Regions from separate parts of the Homo sapiens genome. Here region 2 is linked to region 1. The links come from fine-mapping of genetic effects on gene expression. Tissue or cell type: monocytes after interferon gamma. Region 1 holds a variant in brackets; the other region holds the start of a gene. All regions are shown on one strand. Distances are between the middles of the regions.

The links. PIP is the estimated chance that this variant, and not a neighbour inherited with it, causes the effect.
Region 2: LPCAT2 starts here. The variant in region 1 is fine-mapped to the expression of LPCAT2 in monocytes after interferon gamma (Fairfax 2014, PIP 0.95). The same link has a PIP of 0.9 or more in monocytes.

What each region holds. Positions count from the first base shown.
Region 1 is chr16:55,582,217-55,584,936 of GRCh38, reverse strand. It overlaps LPCAT2 (lysophosphatidylcholine acyltransferase 2), which reads right to left. Exons shown (of 14, transcript NM_017839.5): 14 at 1-2,023. The coding sequence ends at 1,839. Among named protein-coding and RNA genes, the nearest start is that of CAPNS2, 17 kb to the right of the region's middle. The variant G/A (reference allele first, on the strand shown) is at 1,722.
Region 2 is chr16:55,508,131-55,510,630 of GRCh38, reverse strand. LPCAT2 (lysophosphatidylcholine acyltransferase 2) reads right to left here and starts at 1,559. Exons shown (of 14, transcript NM_017839.5): 1 at 1,279-1,559. The coding sequence starts at 1,449.

The DNA.
Region 1 (2,720 bases):
CATTGCATATGACAGACACTCTGATAAAAATGTACTGTTCTAATTACTTAATTGTTTTGGCTCATTTAACACCTTGTTTAAATAGCTTTAAGACATATAAGAGGCAAATAATTATATATACTTAAGGATAAAATTTTCAGATATTTATCCAAACACACATTTACCCATTAAATTAGAACACTAACTGCTTAATATGTAAAACTAGTTTGAAATCATGACTCTTGATTAAATACATACTTCAACATCTCTCATGAGACTTCCCAACTTCAAAAATGACTTTAAAAAATTAGCTTGGGGGTGAATCACCAATACATTCAGAAACACGGCCAAAACAAGGAGTTTTATTTCAAAGACTGAATTCAGAAAATGAACCAACTATTTTTGTACATTATATTAATAAATTGGTTCTTTGTTGAAAACCTCAAACATGAATGATATTAGCAATATGCATGTGTGAGACCCATTAAAAATGACAATTCAAAAAAATTACTGCTTAACCTAAAGGAAAAATGTTACTGTTGGATTCCTGCCTGGGGCTTAAATTGTGGTCTTGCATTAATAAAGTACGTTTGTTGATTCCCTAGCTTTGGGTGATACCTTGAAACCTTTTGTGTTTTCTGGGAGATATTTCACACAAGTTCTAAAATTTGAGAGTCCACTTAACAAAATAAAATTCCCACTTACATGATAATATATTAATTCTAATATTATATAAATAGAACAAATCTGATTCATTTATAGGGCAAGTGCTACATTCTGAACTATCTAACTCAAATTAAATTCAACTCTGTGGCAAACAATTCATTTTCTTATTAGGCAATCAATGTTACCTTCAATAAGGCAATTCCCATTTACCTTCTGGCCATAGCAGTTGTCTTAAAACCAAGTTCTAAACCTGTAGTTCATGTAAAAGGATATGATTTCCTTAGCAAGTAGTTAAGAAAATCTACAATAGGCCGGGAACGGTGGCTCACACCTGTAATCCCAGCACTTTGGGAGGCTGAGGTGGGTGGATCACCTGAGGTCAGGAGTTCGAAACCAGCCTGGCCAACATGGCAAAACCACATGGCTACTAAAAATACAAAAATTAGTCGGGTGTGGTGGTGGGCACCTGTAATCCCAACTACTCGGGAGTCTGAGGTACGAGAATCACTTGAACCCAGGAGGCAGAGGTTGCAGTGAGCTGAGATTGCACCACTGCACTCCAGCCTGGGTGACAGAGCAAGACTCCATCTCAAAAAACAAAACAAAACAAAAAACTACAATAGAGATGTATGTCAAAGAGAATATAAGTTCTTAAGAAGCTGCGTCTAATTAGTGAAGCTCTCCCTTCCCATATTCAGTGATCCAAGAAACTGAAATTTAAATGGAAAAATGAATCTGTAAAGTTATAGATGTCAAATTCTCAGATTCTTCATTGTTATTTCCCAAGTGGAAAAGGATTAGAAATAATAGAATATTATTGATTTTTAGAGGAAAGTAGATTAAAAAGTGTTTACATTTTTAAAACTTTATACAGTGTTGCTCAATGCTCACCAATAGACCATTGCATTCATTTGTATATGCAAATTAAACTGGAAAATCCATAAAAACATATGTATCACCAGTAAATGAATCAGTAAAGTACAATATAACACAAAAGAAAACGAAATATTGCTTGATTTTTTCCAATAAAAGCAAGGTTAATAAAAACATTTTTAGTAAGAAAATCTATCATTTTT[G/A]TTTTAAAAATCTTTCAATTTTAAACATCATTACCAACACATTAAAAGTATTATCAATAAGTGCCTTTACAATTTCAAGCAAAAGCTACTGTGTTTTCCTTATTGGAAATACTGCTTTCAGTCATCTTTTTTGTCTGAGGTACTCTCTTCATGCTTTTCAGGGCTGACTTTATTACTGGCGGTGGAGGGGGTTGTCTGGACTTCTTTTGGTAATGAAAACACATGGCACGTCTGGAGGTCTAGGTATGTTGTAAATATCTTAGCATATTCTGGATGCTTTAAGGCAAAACTTTTAAATTCCTCTAGAAGAGAAAGAAAAAAAATCCAATAAGTTGGGGTGAATCTTCTTTTGGCATGATGCAGATTAATAAATGACTCTAATAATGCAATTATTACAAAATTCTACTACCCAACACACAAACATTGCTGATGAAAATATAAGTTGTACAACCACTTTGGGAGATAGTTTTTCCATTATCTAGTCAAGTTGAAGATATACATACTCTTTGACCCATTAATTCTACTCTGAGGTATATATCCTAGAGAAATTTGTGCATATTGTGCTCTGAGAGACATGTATGAGAATGTTCACAGCAACATTATTTATAATAGATAAAAAATAAAAACAACTTGGATGTCCATCAACAGTAGAAATGCATAAATAAATTGTGTCATACTCATGGAACATAAGGCCATATGGCAATGAAAATGAATAAACAGCTATGTAGAAACAATGTGGATTAATCTTAAAGCCATAATGTTTAATGAAAAAAGCAAGATATAAAGTAACACATAATTGTATGAGTCTATTTATATAAAGCCCAAAAACTTAGACAAAACTAAAATTTAATATTTAAAGGTACATACTTTAGGGGTGAACTGTTAAAGTAAAATAAAGCAAGGCAGAGATTCCTTTTTAAGTCAGGATAACAACCCCCTTCTTTAAGAGAGAGGTAGGGGTGTGGTTGGGAAAGGGCACACAGGGGTTTCTGGAGTTGT
Region 2 (2,500 bases), 74 kb after region 1:
CCATCTACCATTACTCAAGCCACCACCTGTGTTGTTTAGCTCTGCACTTAACCTTCCCCCACTGTAGAGGACAATGGTCTTAGTGCATACAAGCTGATTGCAAATATTATACTGCTTCAAATCCAAAGTAATGTGTGAGATGGACATGAAAACTTCAAAATTGTTCCCCCACCCCCCCAACCCCCGCAGAACACACGGACAAATGTGGTTAGCAGGGTCTATCTTGTTCTCTGATCACTAACTTCAACAAAGAGGAAGTCCAAAGAGTGCAACTGCCAATGGTAAAAGGAACCCTTTACAAGAAAAAGGAAAGGAAAGGAAACTTCCTTTGTGCATAACAGTATAGCCATTTTTAACAATGGAAAACAGCCTGGGCTACTACTTCTCATGCTTCAACTTAGGAAACGTTTTTAGGTGAAGACTGATTCTGGACCAAAACTTCTTGAACATCCTAAGCTGACTCAGTTGTCCCTTTTCTTTGATTCTGACTTCCCACCCTCCATCATGCTCCTGCTCAGCTAAATCTTTCCAGCCTTACCTGTTGTTCTAACCACAGACCTAGGCTCTCTGCCTTCTGCCTCACTCTTATCCATCCCATACTGACTCCTCTCCTTCCTAAGGCAAAAAAAAAAAAAAAAAGACTTCTTCAAATCTACTCTCCCGTAGTAGATCTGCCTCCCACTACACTCTCATAAACTCAAGTTGAAGCTTCTGTCACAGATTCACAGATTCCTTCAACCTTCTGGGGCATGGAATGTAGCCTGCGCCACCAGCCAGCTCAGTCTCTTCCTGTTTTGGATTCTCCTCTCAGGCCCGCATCTTCCCAGCATCTTCTCTCCTCCCGTGCCCGCTCAGACCATCCTCTAAATGTCCTCAATTCTCAGACACACATCTCCGCCCCTTTCAGGCTCACGGCCCCTCAGAAGTCCTCTCCTCTCAGATCCACTGCTCTTTCTTCCTCTGATGCCTTTGCTTCCCAGACCCACAACGCCCCTCAGACCCACGCGCCCCTCGACCGCCCTCCCCCGTCAGACCTACACCAGTCACCTGGACCCGCCCCAGACCCTGGCTCCCCTCGGGCCACCTCCCTCCTCAGACCCATGCCCCCTTCAGGCCACCTCCCTCCTCAGACTCTCGCCCGCCTCGGACCACCTCACTCCCTCAGACCCACGCCCCCCTCGGCCGCCCTCCTCTCTCAGACCCACACCCCTTACCTGGACCCCCCTCTGACCTAGGCCCCCCTCAGACCACCTCTCCCCTCAGACCCACGCCCCTCACCTGGACCCGCCTCGCGGAGCCGATCTGCGTCTGCTGCACGAAGGGGTTCGGCACCGGCGGCGGGAAGAAGGACGCCTGACGGGGCACCATGGGCGGCCGCAGCCCCACGTTCCCGACGCCGGCACCTGGCACTGTGGCCGCCACTTCCGCCGCCTGGGCGCACCGGCTCATAGTTGAGCCGGGCGTAGAACCCGGCCGAAGCGATCTACGCGGGCGCTGCAGCCAAAACTGAGCCGAAGACCTACTAGAGTCCCAGCCTAGGGCGACGCTGGGGAGCCTCTGCGCAGGCGCTGAAGTTACTTAGACGCCTGCTGCTGCCGCCCTGCCCCTTCGGCTGTGACACGCCCCAGGCTCTGGCCACACCCCCTCAGGCATCTGGCTCCACCCCCTTGGTAATATAGTCCATCCCCTCGGAGGGGAATGTTTTCCTTCCGAGCCAAGACCCTGAAGGGTACCCCAGGATCCCTAACATTCCACAGCGAGACACTAGGCAGAGTTCCCTGCTTTAGGGTCGGACGGACCTGGATTTTCAATCCCTTTTACTGGGCCTGTGACGCTGGCCAAATCACTATCTCTATGAACCTCGGTTGCCTTCCGTAAAATGCAGATAAATGTATTCTCAGATAATCCTAACCTGGATCCAGTAATGCCATTGAGCAACCACTTCCCCTGGGCTGTTCCATTAAGTGAGCTAATATTAATACACCCATGATGGCACTAGGAGTGGAATTTGTTTCACTCAAAACATAATGGACTGACAGGGGAGAGATGGTTCTCCAGAGGAAAACTGAGCTACTATTACCAGAAAAGGCAAAAATTACAGTTGCCCTCCACGCTAGATGAGGAACCTGACCCAGAAAAGGGAAATGTATTGGGCTGTGGCTCCCTTTCACACTGAGGAAGTTCAAGCCTGTTTGGACCTATGTGGGTGCTCGTGGGGGTGGGAGGGCAGGGGTTTGTCCCATTATCTGAGGACAGTTGATCAACCCTGAGTGGCTGAGAGTTAAAGGAAGGAGATGATAATCAACTCATCCCAACTGATCAACTCTTCTCACAGCAGGTAGGAAGGCCAGGATGAAAATCTGAGTCTGAGCCCTGGGGTTCTCCAAAGTTACCCTCTGAATGTCAGAATCTTCCAGCCCTACCACATAGATGTGTGGCCTTGAGTCAGTCACTTAACCTGAGTTTGCTTCCTTGTCTAGGAATGGGAGATTCATTCTAA